Homo sapiens: one gene and its partners. The protein of the gene in region 5 purifies or fractionates together with the protein of the main gene of each other region. This does not show direct contact. Each region holds a gene or a part of one and is shown on either strand. Other genes may lie near its edges.

Region 1 (3,370 bases), on a different chromosome or scaffold from region 5:
GTCAGGGCCCATAAATGATTTCATATTTCTACTACATATTGTGTGTATCCTTAAATAAAACACAGTATTTTAGATATTCATAAACTTTGTAAGTGGTATCATGCTGTTTGTATCATTCCATTAGGTTGGTGCAAAAGTAATTGCAGTTTTTGCTTTTTTTTTTTTTCTCTTCAATGTTACGTTTTTTTAAAATTTGTCTATGTTAAAAGAGGCAGTTAGAAAGTTGGTATTTCATTGAATAGCCACAATATATCATTCTCCTATAAATGAAGATTTAGATAGTATCTTACAAATGATACCACAATGAACATTCTTGAAAATGTTTGTGCACTATATGAGTATCTTGAGGTTAGTCTTTTCTACTTTAGTTTTTATTTTTCCACTGTTGTAATCATGCATTGTTTATAATTTGAATCTGCTTTTTTTATATAACAGGTTTACCTGTATCATTTCCTATTTTTTGTAAACATTATTGTTAATGTTTATTTTTATTGCTATATACCATAATTTACTTAACCATTCTCCCATTATTAGATATTTATATTGTAACTTTCACACTATTATGAACATTTTTGTATACAAAGATTTTTCATATTTAAGATTATTTTATTAAGTTAGATTCTCAGGAAGGAATTTACTTAGACAAAAGGTAACATTTTTAAAGTTCATGTTGCCAGATTTCTTTGTAAATATTGTGCCATCCCATTAACAAACAACTTCCACTCAGGGGAATTGTATTCTTTCTGCCTTCCATTTCAGGCCATTGCAAACCAACCCTGGGCTCAGAAACTTATGTTTAACAGTCCAGGTTTTGTAGAATATGTGGTGGACCGGTCTGTGGAGCATGACAAAGCTTCAAAGGATGCCAAATATGAACTAGTGAAAGCACTTGCCAATTCCAAGACAATTGCAGAAATCTTTGGGAACCCAAATTATTTGAGGCTCAGAACTTACCTGAGTGAAGGGCCATACTATGTGAAACCTGTTTCCACGACAGCAGTAGAAGGAGCCGAATGATTTCTTCTAGAGCTCATGTAGAGGACCACGTTTTGACCAAAACTTCTCCTAAGGCATTTGACTCCATCTATATTTCACAAAAGAGACTTCCTTTCCCCAAGAATTATCATGGAATGTCAGATGTTACTTTGTTACCAACACTGTTATATTTCTACATTGAAATGCAAAGTGGAACTAGGAGTTTGGAATGCATTAAGAGCAGACAAGCTTGGTCATAATAGATCCAGTGTTTTTCAGATTCCTTTCACTGCCTTAATCTTTGCAACAGGGTGGAAGTTTTTTTCTTCCCTCAAAATTTTCATGGACATGCAATCTTATCTAAAAGCCTGCTTCAGGGCTGGGCGCGGTGGCTAACACCTATAATTCCCAGCACTTTGGGAGGCCAAGATGGGCAAATCACTTGAGTCTAGGAGTTCAAGACCAGCCTGGCCAATATGGCAAAACCCTGTCTCTACTAAAAATATAAAATCAGCCAGGCATGGTGGCGCACACCTATAATCTCAGCTACTCAGGAGGCTGAGGCACGAGAATCGCTTGAGCCTGGGAGGCAGAGGTTGCAGTGAGCTGAGATCTTGCCACTGCACACCAGCCTGGGCAACACAGCAAGACTCTGTCTCAAAAATAAATGAATAAAATAAAAACCTGCCACCAAATTATTTCTGGATTCTCTTCACTATCTTTTTTTTTCTTTTTGGTCCTTTTTCCATTTCTGATTCCACTTTCAAAGTCTTGGATATATTCTTTGAAAAATGAGTAGTATGGAATATTAAGATTATGTTCCTTATACTCAGAATACTTTTTATGAGCTCTCTTGTTTTTTTGTTACTATTATTCCTTTGAAAAAAAGACAAAATATCTAAAAAATGTTTATAGTGTTCATGTAATTTTTTTTGCTGTTTACCAATGAACTTTGCCCTGTTGTGGTTTTGGGGGATCAGAAGGATTCCTAAACTGTCATTTCATTTATTGGTAGGTCATGATTGCTGAGGGTTTTGCTTTGGATTTTTCATACCTATAAAGTCAATCTTGAGTTGATCAGAGAAAGGGAAACTTACTCCTAATAAACAGACTCAGAACAGAAGGGACATATGCATAAATCAGGATACCATCTCATTAATTTACAAAGGATAATCTTTCTTTTCATTGACAACACCTACACCCACCTGTTTTCCAGTGTTCTTCTCTCTAAACAGCAAAGCCAAAGCACTCTGCACACCAAATCACCTGTTCAGAGGTTTATGCATGAGCATATTTCTTTTAGGCCGTGGTGAAGTTGATAAACCACCCCTGCTTTGTAACAAAATTATTTTAAAGTGACTGGAATTATCTAGTCCCCAGATTGATCATCTCCCCTGGCAACGTGACTCTGTTTTTTGTGTGTGTTTCCATGCTGACTAGTCCCCTACTGTTAATATCACTACTAATTAGGCTATAACCAGGTCTTTCCTGGCCTGAGAAATATTCTCTTAAAATGACCTTTGTTTTAATCTCATTCATGATGTTGATTTTTTTTCAATGTGGTGCAATATATACAATAAAATTTGTCATAACTATTTTAAGTGTACAGTTCAGTATATTACATATGTTCATAAGTTGTACAACCATCACCACCATCCATCTTCAGAATTATTTTCATCTTATACAATTGAAACTGTATTCATTAAACAATAACTGTCTATTCCCTCTTTTCCCCAGCCTCTGGCAACCACCATTCTGCTTCATGACATTGATTTTATTCACTTAACATCAGATTTTGGGGGGATGCCCTCTCTCCTATGTATGGTCTACACATTCTGATTTTTTTTTTAGATTGAATAAAATTTGTAAATCATTATTTTCATTTCATAAGTAAACACCTGTTGACTGCCTATTATGTTCTTGGGATTGGGGAAGGTGCTAGACATTGGCCTAAGTGCCAAGTGCATCTCATTTAATTTTTACATCCCTGTTTCACAGATGAGGAAACCAAGACTTTAGTAGCTTATCTGAAAATCACACAAGAAGAAAGTGTCTTATATTGGAAGAAAATAGGTCAATAGAAAATTAGAGAGTATAAGAAGTACAATAATAGAGGAAAACAGAAAACACGTCCCCTGACTTTAGGAAATGTTTTCCAGGGAAGGAAACACCTGCATCTTGAAGAACTAGTAGGAGGCAATCAAGTGAAGAATACAGTGGAGTAGCAAAGCAAGACAGCAGGTACACATGAAAACAAGAGAACATGTTTGAGAAACTACAAGTAATTCAATATGACCAACGCCTAGGATTTAAAGGGAAATTTTTGCAAAATTCTTTATCATTATTACTAATAATAGCTACCATTTCTTAGCATTGATTTTATGTTAGGCACTTG
Region 2 (3,500 bases), about 57 Mb from region 5:
TTTTTATTCAATGATAAATAAAATGAGCTAAGTGTGGTGGTGCATGTCTGTAGTCCTAACTACTCAAAAGGCTGAGGTGGGAGGATTGCTTGAGACCAGAAGTTTGAGGCTGCAGTGAACTATGATTACACCACTGCACTCCAGCCTGAGTGACAGAGTGAGACTTTGTCTCTAAAAAATAATAAAAAATAAAGTAAAAAACCATTCTTAGCTCATAGGTGAACAAAGATAGGTGGCTGGCCCTATTTGACCTGTGGGCTATAGCTTAATGATTCCTGATTCAGGGTTTATGATTTTGTATGTTGTTTTAATTCTGAGTTCTTGAAAATTGAGTTGTTAAAATGTTTTATGACTCTCTACTGATAAATCTTGAATCTGTTGCTTTACAGCTGCACTTTGGCTTGAACTAGTTATTTCTTTACATGATTCAAACTTGGCCTCTGATAATGCATCTTCCAAAGGTTGTATTTGGAAAATCTTAGAATGAATGGATTATCTGTATGAGAAGATTGCATGTTCATTTAAGGTGCCAAGGGTTTTCTGAACAGCTCAACTTGGAAGCAGATGGGGTCTGTGCACTCCATTGTGCACTGTTTAGTTTGCCTGTTTGTTTTCCTTTCTTTAATGCCAGAAAGAATAACACAGACACACCTTATAAAAGCATGCCAAGGTTACGGGATTGATTATTTTGTCAATATGTTTGAAAGCTGACTTTGAAAACATTTTTAGAACTTTGAAACTTTTAGGAAACATCTTAATCATAATACTCAGTGTTAGTATAAGATAACAAGTTTGAATGAAAACTTGACAAAGCATTTGGAATGTTTAGTTTGAAAAGTCTGGGCCGGGCATGGTGGCTCATGCATGTAATCCCAGTGCTTTGGGAGGCCAAGGCGGGCAGATCATGAGGTCAGGAGTTCGAGACCAGCCTGGCCAACATAGTGAAACCCTGTGTCTACTAAAAGTACAAAAAATTAGCTGGGCTTGGTGGTGGGCGCATGTAATCCCAGTTGCTTGGGAGGCTGAGGCAGGAGAGTTGCTTGAACCTGGGAGCTGGAGGTTACAGTGAGCCGAGATCGCGCCATTGCACTCCAGCCAGGGCAACAGTGCGAGACTGTCTCAAAAAAAAAAAAAAAAATCCTGAATTGAATATTCTTAAAAGTTTTACTGTGTGAAAACGTAGACTCTTGTATGCACATTCATGCATGCCTGTTGATACAGTCATCTGCATTTATTTTGGAAGCTTGGTCTGTTGAAGTATATTCTGAGGGTAATGAAAATATGCCAGCATAATGGATTTCCCCCCAAAATTTCTAAGTGAATTTTAAAAGACAGCTCATAAGTAGAAACATTGGAATAATGTTCTTTCCAGACTAGGTTCTTCACAAACTAGTTATCACAGATGATGGTACTGTTTTTGCAGTTCGGTTTGCTTCATGCCAAAAGTGTCCTTGATCAGTTACTTTAAATCTTGATACCATTAGACTGTTGCAGTATTGAGATTTTGTTTTTTTAACTTTGAAGATTCCAAGATATGGTAGGATATTTTGTCTTCTTTAGATTACCATTTCTTATTTTTTTATTCTTATTTATTTATCAATTTATTTTTTGAGACAGTATCGCTCTGTCGCCCAGGCTGGAGTGCAGTGGTATGATCTTGGCTCGCTGCAACCTCCACCTCTAGGGTTCAAGTGATTCTTGTGCCTCAGCCTCCCGAGTAGCTGGGACTACAGGCGTACACCACCATGCCTGGCTAATTTTTTTGTGTGTGTTTTTTTTTAGTAGAGACGGAGTCTCACCATGTTGCCCAGGCTGGTCTCAAACTCCTGAGTTCAGGCAATCTGCCCCCTCGGCCTCCCAAATTGCTGATATTACAGGCATGAGCCACCACGCCCAGCCCATTTCTTGTTTTTTAATATTTAACTCACGAGTAAATATAAATAGGATTTTCTCAGATAAATTATATCATAACGTAACCCTTAAATTAACCCTTTGCTTATTGAAGTGTCCTTAAGAGACCCTTTATCCTAGAAACAAGATTGGTGTTTGTCCAGTCTCCTTAGGAGCTATAGAAATCAATTGAGTGGTGAAGATAGGTGAGAACAGCAAAGAATTGGCAGCTTAGGTCTGCAGCATTGGCTATAGGCCTCACTGGCTGAAGCGATGAGGAAGCAGTGACAGGAGATGGGTAGTGGAAGCATGCAGTGTGTGCACAGAGAAAGCCGGCCAAATGCTTTGGTGACAGTGACAATGCACTTTTCCAGTGCAGGCATGGACTCCCTAGAGGTTGGATAGGCAGGCTCCATCTCACCCCTATTTCCTCACTGTGCAAAATTCCATTGTTAGAATTTTTTTAATGTGTGCTTTAAAATTTTTATTTATTTTTAATGTTAAGAATAAAGATATCCTGTTTTCACTTTAACCTCTTGAAATATAAAATGACTCATGTTCATTGGCACAAAGGTTGAGAGTTCAGTTCAGGGTCAAAACTCTTAGGCACTTGGACTTTGCTTTGCTACATACTTGCATTGCTCTGCTATCCTGTGTGGTATTCACAAGCTCAGTAACCTGAAGCAGACCCTGAACTGACTGCTGGGTGGTGCAATGGGAGGAAGTCCAGCTTTTCCAGCAGTGTGCTTTGTGTCCTACCACTCTCCCCAAAGCACAGATAACTTAATTTTTAACTTAGGAAGCAGTCTAAATAATGTATGCTGTTTTATTTTCTCCCAGGGACGTTGGCCAAGCCATTGAGTGTTTATCTTAATGGAGAGATCTGATTATGTAACCATATATTATACTAATAAATGGTGTGTATAAGTTTTTATCTCTAATTGAAACTCTTCCCCTTTTTTTGCATTTTTCTTTTTGAAAAGATCATTGTCACAGTCGTACTGGGACTGGTTATAGGTGCCATTTACTTTGGGCTAAAAAATGATTCTACTGGAATCCAGAACAGGTAAGTAAATTTGGATCTTGATTTTCAGAAAATGCTGTTACTTTCTTCAAGCTTATTGAAATCCATTAAGAATTTGAATTTAAGACAAGTATAGTGTAAATGTCATTCTTTTATTGAGGGTAGGATGAGTCAGTTTATTTTTGAGACAGAGTCATGCTCTGTTGCCCAGGCTGGAGTGCAGTGACGCGATCTCAGCTCACTGCAATCTCCGCCTCCCGGGTTCAAGCAATTCTCCTGCCTCAGCTTCCCAAGTAGCCTCGACTACAGACATCCACCACCACGCCCAGCTAATTTTTGTATTTTTAGTAGAGACGGGGTCGCACCATGTTGGCTAGACTGGCTTCGAACTCCTGACCTCAGGTGGGTCCACCCACCTTGGCCTCCCAAAGTGCTGGGATTACAGGCGTGAGCCACTCCACCTGGCCCAATTATTTTTAAATGTACAGTTCAGTGGCATTAAGTACATTTACATTGTTATGCAACTATCACCACCATCCAACTCTAGAATTCTTTTTGTCTTCTCAAGTGGAATATCTGTACCCAT
Region 3 (3,500 bases), on a different chromosome or scaffold from region 5:
TGTTAATAACAGCAGAATATTGAATACAACCTAAAACTGGGTAATAAATACATAGAATATTTTTTATTCACAGGGTGGAATACTGTAAAGAAAAAAACCCAAATATAAAAACAGCACCATATAAAAGTTTTAAAATAGATGAGGTCTAGCTTGTTGCCCAGTCTGGAGTGCAGTGCAGTGACTATTCACAGGCACTATCATTGCATACTACAGTGTCAGATCTCCCGGGCTCAAGCCATCCTCCTGCCTCAGCCTCCTGAGTGGCTGAGACTGCATGCCCGTGCCACCATCCCTGGTTTGTAGGACATTCTTATTATATGCCATGATATGCCATTTTAATTTAAAAATTCACCAAGGAGAAACATATGTTAAGGAGTACATATGAAAGAGTATAAAAAATGAACCAGAAGGGGCTGGGTGCAGTGGCTCACACCTGTAATCCCAGCTACTTGGGAGGCTGAGGCAGAAGAATCACTGGAACCTAGGAGGTGAAGGCTGCAGTGAGCAGAGATCACACCACTACACTCCAGCCTGGGTGACAGAGGGAGACTTTGTCTCAAAAAAAAAAAAAAGGAAACTTGGAGACTTAACCTCATAATAATGGATGTTTCTAGGGTTGAGAGGGACATGACAGAGGAAACGATGTTGGTGATGGTACTCAAGGCACTTCCACTACCTCAGTGACAGGTCTTTTATTAAAAAAAAAAAAAAAAGAGATTGAGCCAGGCACAGGTGGCTCATGCCTGTGAGCTACTTGGGAGGCTGAGGTGGGAGGATTTCTTGAGCCCAGGAGTTCGAGGTTGCAGTGAGCTATGATTGTGCCACTGCACTCCTACCTGGGTGACAGAGTGAAACCCTTCTCTCTAAAAGAAAAAAAAAATTGAAAAACAATGCCAATTCTCTAGAAGGTAAGTTAGTTATTGTTATACTGCTACTTGCCCGTTTCTGTTTTTCCCAAAATGTTAAACCCTTTGGTAAGTATAGTACTAGTAGTTTTACTACTGTAGCATTTAAACATGTAATCTACTATATCAGAAAAATCTTCACTATACCTGAATATAAAATATTTGCATGTAAAAAAACAAAAGTACTAGAAATAACACATGAATGAATTTTTATATAATATAGAGGAATAATATGGCATTTATAAAATTTGGTAAGCATGATAAGAAACCATGCAAAAGTTGGCTAGATCACACTATTAAAACAAACATTCATCTGTATGGCAAACACATATAAGTGAGGTTAAAATAATAAACTGGGCCGGGTGGAGTGGCTCATGCCTGTAATCCCAACACTTCTGGAAACTGAGGAGGATCATCTGAGCCCAAGAGTTCAAGACGAGCCTGGGCAACATGGCGAGACCCTGTCTCTACAAAAAAATTTTAAAAATCAGCTGAGTGTGGTCTCACTAGCTTATGGTCCCAGCTACTCGGGAGACTGAGATGGGAGGATCGCTTGAGAGTTCAAGGCTGTAGTGAGCTATAATTGAGCCACTGCACTCCAGCCTGGGCGACAGTGAGACCCTGTCAAGAATACTCCAATACAAAAGTACAAAGAAAGATAGATGAAATCATGTAAAAAAAAATGGTAAAGTTCAATGGTAATAATAGGAATTCAAGCAGGTGTAAAATGAAAAAAGACTATCCCAATGAAGTCAGGGTATGGGAAACAATGTCACTGACTCTCCGGGATTGTCAACAATCACAATTTGGGAATATTGGCATCACTGTCAAAATGTGCATACTTTTAAACCTATCATTCTTATGAGCGGGAATTTATCCTGATGAAATAACTAGACAAATATGCGACTATTCATTAGAGTGTTTTATATAAATGGTGCTCTTCCAACCTGGGCCCATGTGTTCCTGAGCCTACCTGACAGGGCATGTGGCTTGATCTCGGCTCACTGCAGCCTCCACCTCCCAGGTTCAAGTGATTCTCCTGCCCTCAGCCTCCTGAGCAGCTGGGATTATAGGCGCACACCAGTACACCTGACTAAATCTGTCTTTTTAGTAGAGATGGGGTTTCACCATGTTGGCCAGGCTGGTCTCGGAACTCCCAACCTCAGGTGATCCACCCGCCTCGGTGTCTCAAAGTACTAGGATTATAGGCGTGAGCCATGGCGCCCGGCCGCAAGGATAGTTTTAAGAGAGTCAATTTCTAGCTCTTCAACTTCCATGTGTACTCTTTCTTAAAAATTATATGTCTGTGAATGCCTTTGTGGTCAAGGCTTAGGCTGGTTTTCAGGAATCACTCCACCTGTCCTTTCTAATTCCCCTTTCACAATTATTTATCTACTTTACAAAAGAAAGGCGTATCTCCTAACCAGCCAAATCCTACTGTGGTGTATTGCCATGAGGCAAAAAAAAAAAAAAAAAAAAACCCAGAGAAGAGGAGAGGCAAACAAAATGCTGGTGTCTGTGGTGAATGTAAATGCCTCTAATAAAAATCCAAATTTTTAGCTTTCATAAAATTACATTGATAGTGGATGATCATTACAAATAATTTTTGATGATACATCACTGTGATTTTTTGTCATGTAATTAAGAAGGAATCAAAATAATTGAGTGGCACTATTGTAATATATCTTCTATTCCCAAACTCAAAGTATTTCTATTATTTTTAATTTGCTATCATAAAGAATATTGGGGTTTTTCCATTTTTATCAACTATAAAAAAAAATTAGGGATAGAAAAGGAACAGTTTCATTCACGCAGTAAATAATGTCGACCCAAAGATATGTGAATGTATAGGGAAAAAATCTCATCTTTCTTATTAAAGTCGTTGTAAGTAAACATAAAAAGTAATTATTATTATTATTTTAATATTTGTTTATTATTATTATATTTTAAGTTTTAGGGTACATGTGCACAACATGCAGGTTTGTTACATATGTATACATGTGCCATGTTGGTGTGCTGCACCCATTAACTCGTCATTTAGCATTAGGTATAAAAAAAAAAAGTAATTTTTAATTAAAATTTGTAACATTTGTTTTGATCAATTATATATTCTAATAATTGTGAAAACTCAATATAGAAGATATTTTCATCCTTTGAGATTTAATAAAAAGCTTAAAAATTCAATTTATAGAAAATAGGGCCTAGCTTGTTGCCCCTGTCATTTTTGTTGCAGATAAGCATGATAAGCTACTCAATAAAATATTTGAAAATATGTGTAATAAAAATATATCATCTCAGGGAGAAGTTCAAACAAACAAACAAAATATATCATCTTATGCTGAAATTCTGTAGAAGTACAACAAAGGAATTCAAGGAGGAAAGGGAAATGATATATAATTTTTGCCTGTTAAAGAAGAGCTGAGCTGTATATAAATGATGGTGGGTATGAAAAAGCAATAATATTTATACTTCATTTGATACATTTAAGGCTGATTTAAAAGTTTTATTTTAAAATGTCAATATTTACAGCCCCCCTCCCCCAAGAAATTACATGCTTTGCAACTACAATGAAAGATTTAGATATCAACTTTAAAA
Region 4 (3,500 bases), on a different chromosome or scaffold from region 5:
GAAGGAAGAGCTAAAATAGAATTTTTAGCACATCTGCACAATAATATTCAAGAATTCAAGGCATCTAACAGAATAACAGTTTCCCCTGAAATGATTTCAGGTAATTTCTCTGAACATATTTTAGGGCAATAAAAATATTATAAATCTTCTTAAATTAGTTTAGCTAAAGCTTAGCCCTACCACACTGTTTTATTTTCCATTTCACAGTGAAATACACCATTATATATACATATATGAGAGAGAGACCATTTCATTGACCACATGCATGGCTATAGAATTCTCTTTTTATTAGCAAACTGAGTTCTGCACCCATTTTGCGGTATGGGTTGATGGCTCAGAAAGAAGCGCAAGTTTTCTTTTTAAAATAGCAATTCCTAAATGCCTTTGCAGCAAATAAACTTGTAAATAAGAGCTTTATTTCCTTCCTTTTTATACTGTTAAAGGAAATCAGACATTAGTATTAATGAATTGCTCTGAGTGATCACGTCATGAATCTATTAGTTTTTTTTATCTTAATTAAACAGTTAATTTAATGCTTTGTGGCTTGTGGGTAGATTGTTCTAGCATTTTTGGTTGGTCAATGACTCCCAGAGGTCTAATAGGCCTGTATCTTTTAGTTTTAAATGTAATGTTAGTCTAAAATAGATTCAGAAAGAAGTTGATTACTTCATTCTTGAAGGAAGTAAAACAAGGAAGATCTGGTGTCTCTCCAACAAATATTTTTTGAAACTTCATTTTGAAAAAGCAGAAATGAGCTGGTTTCTCAATAGATTTATTTATTTAGTCATTTCATCATACCTCTATATCTATTTTTAAAATCACTATGTAAATGGAAAAGAACTTGTATGGTAGAATTATGCGCCCAAATGACTATTCATTGATACAATGACTTGCTCTCCAAAGTATTATTTAAGTTAGCAAGGGCAGATTCTTTAGTTTGGAGGATTATTACCCACCTCTCACTGGGTAACTGTCTGTGTCAAATTTTCCTGCTTCTACTACCAAACCTCAGCCAATTTCCTAAATTTCACGTAAGTAAATCTATAAAATTCACTGTCCATATTTATCTGCCAAATTAGTGAACTGTAAGATGAAGATGAATAAAGAAAAGCCTGTAAGAATTATGGAATTTCAGCAATGGCTTAGTTGAAATTCAGCAAGAGAATTTCAGTTGAGGGCTTAATGTACATTTAACACTTTGTTGGATGCTAATGAGGTGAAAAACATATTCTACAATACTTCCCTAAGGAAACAAATAAGTACTGTTAGACAGTAAAGGCAATTCAATGTAATAATGTAGTTTTGCAATTTATGGTATAGGCAACATTGATTTCTCTCTTTCCTACTCTCTCACTCAGGATGAATGAAGAAAAAAATGGTCCAGTCATTTGCTTAACTCAGGCCTCAGTTTCCACAACTCCAAAATGAGAGCCTTATACTAGGTAATCTTTCTGTAAGGATCCTTCAAACTAACCTCTTTGTTATAAACAGATACAGAATACAGAAACCACTGAGGTTATATGACTGACTTCCCTAAGGTTACAAATATAGAGTCACAAATTGTATAATATATAAAATGGGGAAGAGAACATGGAGAAAACTCCCACAAATTTTATTAGGTTGGTTCAAAAGTAATTGTAGTTTTCACCATTGTGGTTTTCACCGCAATTACTTTTGCACCAACCTAATTCAGAATTTAAAAGTGAAAAACATTTGAATGCTGAGAAGATAATACATTGTTATAAAGTAATTTGAATTTTTACCATAGATTTATACTTTACTTTGGGTAAGTGCCATTTTCAGAAAGGCAGCCAAATTTGTACAAACATAGTGGATATTCTGAGTCTCTTGATTGAGAATGAAGCAACAAGATCAAATAAAAGTTCATTTGTTTCTCTAGTATAATACAGAATACATTTATCACAACACTTATAGAGTGAGAAATTATTAAAAAAACACTCTATCCCTTCTCCCAGATTTCTTTAATTTCTTATGATAATTGAAATAATGCTTGTCCTTCCTACCTTGGATTCATTCGTGGATAACTTTTCTTAATTATTCCCCATTTCAGTCCATTAATACAGCTTCAGAATTATTTCTGAAAAATGTTGTTCAAATGTGCCACCTTTTAAATTCCATTGTGATTATAGACTCTTAGGGTTAGTAATTGAAAGCTCATTTCAGACAACTCCCTATCTCATGTTTGAACTCTGCACATCTCCCACTCTCTTTACAATGGCACCAAATAATGCTACCCAATTCCTGGGCAGAGCATAGATAAGGCTAAAAGTTGTCAGCTACCAAAGTAGCTGCTGAATATCAGAATGAAACCCAGGGACTCTAAAGTGGGTTATGAAGTGATGAGCTTCAGCTAACAGGGAACATTAGGAAATGACTGCAGACAAATCCTCATGCTTAATTCAGAGAAAGATGTACGGTTTGATTGGAGGGGGTGAGGAAGAAGGATATCATACAGACTATAAAGCCAAGAAGCAATGCTTAGAATGCAAATGTGTTATAATTTTGTGTGTGCAGTGTAAAAAGACTACTGGCCATATTTTAAAAAGTCATCTAGGTTACACTCACATACTTAAGAACACCAGAATTTCCATTTTAAATTTTAAGAAAATAGACATAATTGTTTGCACCTCTTACATGGCACTTAGCACATTGTATTACATTGTTTTTTCCTTAGATATGGAGTCTTGCTATGTTGCCAAAGCTGACCTTGAACTCCTGGGCTCAAGCGAACCTACTGCCTCAGCCTCCTGATTAGCTGGGACCACAGGTGCATGCCACTGCACCTGGCTTCTATCGCATTTTATTTTTATTACTTGGTTTTTAACTTATACTTTAGAGGCAGGCCTGGTGTTAAAGGTTTTACATGCATCACGTCACTTTTAAATTTGAGTCTTATCTTTCCTACTGGATTATAAATTCACATGGAACAAAGATTATAATTTATTCATGTTTATACTCCCCAGCTACCGTTTGCATATATCATTACATATTGTGGCTTCTCTCAACATATATTTGCTGAATAATTAATATACAAAAAGACACAAGCACTGTGGGAAAGGTATTTATAGTGCAAATTTGGAGTTAACTAGAACCTAAGTTCTAGTCTGTTATAAGCCTCTATGTCCTCCTCCGCCAAAAGAGAAAATCAGACTGGATGGTTACTGAGATAATTTCAAATGCTACAACTTTAAGAAAATATCAACAGTTTCTAATTCTGAAAATCCACTTCAAATAATAATACTCAGGTAGTTGATTTTATGCCCCAGAAGATTAATGGTTATGACTCTTCAGCTACTTAAGTAATTCTTATAAAATCTCAAGTCAATATTCACTTCAGGTCTCTAACTTGTCATTTTCCATTCACTCCAGTGCCCTACATTTGAAATGATTCATGTCTTAAAGATTTCTGAGTGATTGAAGACATGTCTTCTTTTTGTCTTTTGTTATTTAAAGTAAATTTAAGATATCTTTGGCTATTA
Region 5 (3,500 bases):
CCCCAATCAAGTGTTTTACTTTGGAAATGACAGGAGATCCTTATTAAAAGTCATGCTTCTTGGATAGAGATGTGGCAGCTTGCATGTATATGATGGCACAGAAGACAAGCTGCCTTTCGTTAAAAGCAATAGAGGAAATCAATTTTGGCAGAAAATACTCCAGACTGTGAAGTAAAGACTGAAGGAAAGAACTGAAGAGCATCTCACTTATAGCTGATTGGAGATTCAGTCAATCTATTTAATAAATGATTATAATCTCTTATGAGCTGTAGGTAGTTTAGGTACACAAGTTAAAAAGTAAGAAGACTTGTTTGAGCATGAATATAGAATTACAAGCTGTTTATAATGCATCTCAAACAACAGGAAAACAAGTGCAATGAATTTCAAACTAAAAACACAAATTAATCCCTGAAAAGCAGCCACCTGTATAAGTCACTGTGTAAGTGAAATGACATATTGTGTGAGACATAAATGTGGAGAGATGATTGGAGACAATTCAGGGTCATTTCTGCAGGGAATAACAACCACATTCATAAAGATTTTTTTATATTTTAGAAGCTAAATTCCTGATTATTTTCCCATGTCCTTGCTATTCACTATCATAAGAAAAGAGGAGCAATTTGAATTTGTTGAAGCAGTGAAAAAAAAAAAAGGAAATATTTTGAGTAAAATGCAGACCTGATCTTACACTTTGCATTTCTATCCTTTTTTCCCCCTGTTCAAAGCATTTAGGTCAGGTTAAAAAAAAAAAAAAAAGAAAAGAAAAAAGGATCCCAAAATAGGAAATATTCTCAAAGAACTTGCAGTTTGTTCATTTAAACCAACTAGATTACAAAAACCACTAATAAAATTTGTCAATAATTTGATTATTATAATGCATCTAAGATACGTATTTGAGAAACAGACAATTTAGGGTAAAAAAATGAGTGGGAAAGTACTTTTTTCTTTTGATGAAAAAATTAAGAGAATCTGCTCACTTGTAAGTCAAATGGCAGCATCGGCAACTGGAATAAATAATTAACCTTACATTTTACCTACAGGAAAGGGTCAGCTAATTCTAGATTTCCGGTGTAGAACACTAGAATTTCCTTGTTAACGCTTAGTCAAGGGCATAAAAATCCCAGGACGCTGTTTCAATAATCGATGGGCCGACAAATGTCAATACTTCAGTTACCCATCATTGAAGGAAAAAATGACAAACATTAGTGGCGAGCCTTCATTTAGGAGATTTAGCCAAGTAAAACGTCTAAAATATCCTATACAAATGTTAAACTACAGGGGATGGGGTGTGGAAGCAAAAGCAGAAAGTGTACATATCTTGGGAATAATTTAAATAACTTCCTCTTCTATTTTAAACGAATCTACTAGGATTGTGCATATGCACATCTCACTGATTCCACTGGTTGCAAATATATTTTCAGAGGTCAAATTCGTCAGTCTTTAAGTCCCAAGCCTTGTAATAAAATGATACCATGTGATAACAACTGGAATGCAGTCATATTATGTTCTTTTGTTTGGCAATAAAAAACAATAAAACATTTTAAATAAAACCCTTCAGGTTATTGCCTCAGAATCTGTTGAAGTAGAACAGGCTTTTCTCTCTCCCATTCTCTCTTTCTCAAACAAAGTCTGTAAAAACATGTTTAATATTTAGAAAATACATAACCATTCTCCAAAGACAGACACATGCTTTCAATTATACATACAGGTAATTATTAACTGTCATCTTTAATCTTGTTTCCTAAGAATTCTTTGTACATGATTTAGCCTTTTAGAAGTAAAAGTCATTTCCCATTCCATTGGACAGCACCATTAATTAGAGTACAGGCTAGTTCATCCAAAGTTTAGTAACTTACCCGTATTCACCCAGTACATTACATTTCAGATAAGATGGCCTGTGTATTTTGATGTGAACACATCAGCACATATTAGGTCATTTGGCATGGTAGGAGGGGGGTGAGGGGATGTGGGCTAGGGTGGGCAGGTGCGTGATATTGCTAGTATGCTTATACCTGTAACTACTGGTTCCTTGCTTTTTAGTTTTTACCACATAATGTGCTGTCAATTTAGGTTCTACTTATGAGTCACCCCATGTCTTAGAATGTATTTTAAATATAAGGTTTTGCATATTTGCATTCTATGAATAATGTATAAGCAGGAAGAAATCCAATTGGCAAAAGCACACCACTTCTGGGATAATTTATAAATCCAGAAAATTGTCTATTTGGATTTAATAATTTTTCTTATGGATGTGGAAAATATTAGCACCCATACAAATTTACCTATGTATTTAGAGCTTCTAACTGAGACCATCCTCATGTCCCTGTCCTGTAACAAACACACATATATCTGTTTCATCTACACACTTAAATGTATCATTTTGTCTACTTTCCTGTTCTATAATATTGGATGTCCTTGCAAAACCTTATCTTTGATGCACATGGGATTAAAAACTGTCCTATGGAATGATGAGCTAGAGGGTGTTGGGAAATGAGAAATAAGATGGTAAGGAATATATTTATATATTTCCTCTAATTTCATATAGATCAGGGGAGCCTGTTGAGGAGTGTCAAATACTAATGGCTTATTCTCCTTGGATTTCAGATTCAAGGCCTCTTCCAGATGTAGCCCTGACTGGGAAGTGCACTCGTGAGTGTGATGAGTATGGCCACTCAGACTCCTGCTGGATGCCGGTCCGCACTTCTCCGGAGAGGAAGAAGAGCCAGCCTAAACTGTCCACTTTCATGCCTGTTGATGAACGAGGAAGCCAGGAAAAGCTGGCCAATGGGGAGGCCGCCATCATGGGTGACCGCAACAGAAACCTCCTGAACAAAAAGTTGACCTCATCCTATGAGACCTTCAGTGCAGCTAGTTTCAGCAAAAATGAGGAAGCCAACCCTGAGGATATTCCCCTTACAAAAACAGGGGAATATAAGCCATCTCCTGTCAATACTCTCACTAGAAGAGAAGTTTACCTGTAGGCTATAAAGGAGCAACAGCAAAGTTCTTTACATGTATGAAAAGGAGAATAAGGGGCAAAAACCTTACAAAGCAAAACGTTTAATCACAAAGAGGGGGCTACCAAAGAGACAAAGCTTTGCCTGCCACTTCTGCCTCCAGATCAGGCCTTTAGTGATACTGTTAGCCTGATTCTACTGTACAATGTAGAAACCATCCTTGTTACTTGCATGTCTAACCCCTTCACTGATTCCCAACACTCACTTTCTCTTCCCCACCCCTCTCCAAAAAAAAAAAAACAAAAAGAAAAGAAAAAAAAAGGGGGATAGTTGCAAGTTTCTTTCACAGTAACTGTACGAAGCCTGATTAGCAGAACACAACACACCCTCATTATCCCTAAGCTGAAGCATGATTTTAGTCACTTTGATTTTGTTCGAGTGTCATCTGGCTGGTCAAAAATAAGCAGGACAGATAAAATGTATTTCAGACATACCATCAGAAAATGGTTTATCACCATCAAAGGCAATCCTTTGAAAGTGATA
Region 6 (3,500 bases), on a different chromosome or scaffold from region 5:
AAAATTTCTGCTACTTTCAAAAGGGGCTGTCCATCCTGGTCTCCCTCTTCTTCAGAGAGACTCCCCTCACTAAGAAGAGGCCCTTCACTGACTGAATCTATGCTGGAACCAAGAGATATTTTGGCTTTGTCTTGAGAACAGGCTTGCATATCAGAGCTAGAAGAGTCAGTCTGCCTTTTACATAACTGTGCCAGTAGCCCTTCTGGTTTGGGACCAGGGGATCTCACTCTAAAGCTTGATATGGCACTCTGTGGTCTTATCATCTCAGGAAGCTTTTTAAATTCACTAAGATTGCCTACACCAGGAAGATCATCATCAAAAGTTGCATGAGATACACAGCTTCCCAGCATCTTCTGAATTCTGGCAGAGAAAACATCTTCATTATCATCTTTCACAGGTGGAGTTACAGCCTTGGTCCAAGGTCCATCTTCTTGAGGTGCCTGCTGCACATCATACTCAGTGTTCCATGCTGACCCATAGTTAATGCTGGCCCCAGCTAATTTCTTGGCTTCACTTTCAATTCTGCTGGACAAAGAAGCAGCTGTTGCTTTCAAGGCTTCAATACGATCCAGTTTACTCTTATATTGGCTGGCACTAGGTTTTAACAAGGCATCTGTATAAGCAGCTGGTGAGGTCACATATGGTTGAGGTGTAAAAGTTAATGGCCTTGAAGCCATATTATGATTCTTCCTGGTTGGTAAAATAGATTCAAAATCCTTATGCAAAATTCCTACATGCTCTAAACTCAAGAGATGGGAGAGTAAACTTCCAGCTGTTCCAGCAAAAGGCTGTGGTTGAGAATGGTGAACTTGTGGGCTCAATCTTTCAGGCTGCATCCATGTAGATTCCATCAAGTCTTTTCTGGAAATGAAAGTCACAATATGTTAGTTAACTAAACCACCATTTTAAAAAAGTTTTTTTTTTATCTGATTATAAGAGTAATGAGGATGCACTGCAACAAAAAAAGGACAGATAAAAAATATAAAAAAGATAAAGATCACTCAGCAAAACAATAAAAAAGAGGCACTGTTAATATTTCATTTAGAATTATATCCTTCCAAACATTTTTCTATTTGTACATTATGTTTTGGTGGTATTGTTTGTACAAAAATGGGATTTTACCATATATACTGTTTTGCAAGCTGCTTTTTTCAACTAAGATGCCATATTTTTAAAAAACTATTAAAAAGGCAATAAGATCTTTAAAATTCTATAAACAGAATTCCTTACAATACTGATTATAATTTTTAAAATAACATTACATAAAAGAGAAATGCTTAAAATTGCTAAATATTAATGTAGACATGATATAGATTATTCTAATCAACAAATATTTACTATATGCTGAACACTTATGTTTAACAATGTACATGCTAAATAGGGAGGTTATTATAACCTATTAATACTTGTAAAAAATTAATGAACGTGAAACAATCAAATGCAAAACTATCAGTGCCAACTATAAATATGCAACTATAAATACAAATATACAGGGTAGGGTATCCATTAAGTCTAGAAACAGAATAAAGATGTCCTAAACAACATTATGTGTATTTACCTATATTTCCAGACCATAGACTTCCTCTATATTAAGGGATACTACAGAGAGATTACAGGATGATGTCAACTATTAAGAAGACCCTTAGAGGAACAGGCCAGGAACAGCGGCTGATGCCTGTAATCCCAGCACTTTGGGAGGCCAAAGCAGGCAGATGACTTGAGGCCAAGAGTTTGAGATCAGCCTGGGCAAAATGGCGAAACTCATCTCTACTACAAATACCAAAAAATTAGGTGGGCATGGTGGCATGTGCCTGTAGTCCCAGCTACTTGGGAGGTTAAGGCACAAGTATCGCTTGAACCCGAGAGGTGGAGGACGCATTGGGCCGAGATCGTGCCACTGCACTCCAGCTGGAAGACACAGTAAGACTGTCTCAGAAAAAAAAAAAAAAAAAGAAAGAAAGAGAAGACGAACATGAGGCTTTGTCCTTGGTCTTGTCCATTATTTTAGGATGATGACACAAAGATATGCTTATCAAACTTGCAGATGACAGAAAGCTGGGAGGCATGGCTGACCCAACAAATGACCAAATTATGAGATGAATTTATTTTTATAGGCTGCAATCGTAAACCAAACTAATATGGATAAATGTAAACTTCTGCAATTGGGTTAAAATAAGTCATCTGAAGGGGGGTAACCAGGGTAATAATAAGTTGAAAAGCATGTCATTAGAATGAAGGAAGAAAGACTAGAGCACAGATTCTATGCCTTAGAATATAGGCTATTACAAATGCAAAGTGTGAGGCTATTGGGGCCTAAACTAAGCTGGTAGTAATAGGAATACAAGGGAAGTTATAATATAAAAGATATTGATGAATAAAAATCCAAGAGCTTTAAATTCAAGTATTTAGAATGCCAATTTTATAGCAGGTGATATGTTGATGGTAGAGAAACAGGAGACAAAAATGAATATACTTAATCCAGTTAATCCTGAGCTGGGCATGGTAGCTCACACCTGTAATCCTAGCTACTTGGGAGGCTGAGGCAGAAGAATCAATCACTTGAGGCCAGAAGTTCAAGACCAGCCTGGGCAACATAGCAAGCTCCTCATCTCCAAAAAAATAAAAAACAAAATAAAATTAGCCAGGCGTGGTGGTGCATGCCTATAGTCACAGCTACTTAGGAGGCTGAGGTGGGAGGATCACTTGAGTCCAAGAGGTTGAGGCTGCAGTAAGCTATGATCGTGCCACTGCACTCTAGCCTGTGTGAAAAAGCAAGACCCTGTCTCCAAATTAAAAACAAATAAAAAGGCTTAATCCTTACACTTTAAGATCTCAAGATCTAGCAGGGATGACAAACAAACAGCTAAAATAAGACATCACAAATACTAAAACAAAGATTTAAAAAGTTCAGTAGGGTATAGATGAAGCAGCAATTAACTCTGCTAGCCAAGGAAAGTGTTTGTTAAGCTGGATCTTCAGTTTTCAAGGTGAGATATGAAACCTGGAGTTTTCCAGGTAGTTAACACAATATGCTATAAAGAGTAAGGAAAAGAAATGCCAAATTTTAAGCAAAAAGTAACATGCTTTTAAACATAAAGTTATGCTAAAACTATTAACGGGAATGGGGGAGCTCAGAAGCTGGGTAGCAAGAAAGTGGACGCAATAAGTTAGACATCAGGAGTCAAAGAAGTTGGATATTAAAAGAAAAGTGAGAAACTGGTACAAGGTAGTATGGTCTAACACTAGATTTGTTTGTGTTTGGCTTGCTTTTAATATTGGATAACTTGTTTAGAATTAGAAGGAAATTCAGAGAAAGATAAAAATTGAAGACATTAATATAGCAGGGTATGTCTGACAACAATAGGACTGAGATGAACTAGAGAGTATCACCCATCTAAAAGCATTCAATCCTCTCCAGAGACGACACTTAGAAAAATAAGTAAATAAATAGAAGCATTCAAATTCAAAACAAAAATGTTAAGTTTATTTATACTTAAAGT

The links.
Region 1: the proteins of PCDH7 (region 5) and PSMD5 purify together in Homo sapiens (affinity purification with mass spectrometry; one large-scale study listed by BioGRID and IntAct). This does not show direct contact.
Region 2: the proteins of PCDH7 (region 5) and ABCG2 purify together in Homo sapiens (affinity purification with mass spectrometry; one large-scale study listed by BioGRID and IntAct). This does not show direct contact.
Region 3: the proteins of PCDH7 (region 5) and TUT7 purify together in Homo sapiens (affinity purification with mass spectrometry; one large-scale study listed by BioGRID and IntAct). This does not show direct contact.
Region 4: the proteins of PCDH7 (region 5) and HTR2C purify together in Homo sapiens (co-immunoprecipitation; one large-scale study listed by IntAct). This does not show direct contact.
Region 6: the proteins of PCDH7 (region 5) and CEP350 purify together in Homo sapiens (affinity purification with mass spectrometry; one large-scale study listed by BioGRID and IntAct). This does not show direct contact.

The regions. Positions count from the first base shown.
Region 1 is NC_000009.12:120,815,553-120,818,922, reverse strand, and holds the end of PSMD5 (26S proteasome non-ATPase regulatory subunit 5), read left to right. Parts: intron 1-759; coding exon 760-1,017; 3' UTR 1,018-2,870; downstream 2,871-3,370. UniProt on the Homo sapiens protein: Acts as a chaperone during the assembly of the 26S proteasome, specifically of the base subcomplex of the PA700/19S regulatory complex (RC).
Region 2 is NC_000004.12:88,106,640-88,110,139, reverse strand, and holds part of ABCG2 (broad substrate specificity ATP-binding cassette transporter ABCG2), read left to right. Parts: intron 1-2,873; coding exon 2,874-2,956; intron 2,957-3,500.
Region 3 is NC_000009.12:86,291,911-86,295,410, forward strand, and holds part of TUT7 (terminal uridylyltransferase 7), read right to left. Parts: exon of another isoform or gene 3,388-3,500; intron 1-3,387. UniProt on the Homo sapiens protein: Uridylyltransferase that mediates the terminal uridylation of mRNAs with short (less than 25 nucleotides) poly(A) tails, hence facilitating global mRNA decay. Essential for both oocyte maturation and fertility.
Region 4 is NC_000023.11:114,590,586-114,594,085, forward strand, and holds part of HTR2C (5-hydroxytryptamine receptor 2C isoform a precursor), read left to right. Parts: intron 1-3,500. UniProt on the Homo sapiens protein: G-protein coupled receptor for 5-hydroxytryptamine (serotonin).
Region 5 is NC_000004.12:31,139,869-31,143,368, forward strand, and holds part of PCDH7 (protocadherin-7 isoform d precursor), read left to right. Parts: intron 1-2,604; coding exon 2,605-2,981; 3' UTR 2,982-3,500.
Region 6 is NC_000001.11:180,017,310-180,020,809, reverse strand, and holds part of CEP350 (centrosome-associated protein 350), read right to left. Parts: intron 862-3,500; coding exon 1-861. UniProt on the Homo sapiens protein: Plays an essential role in centriole growth by stabilizing a procentriolar seed composed of at least, SASS6 and CPAP. Required for anchoring microtubules to the centrosomes and for the integrity of the microtubule network.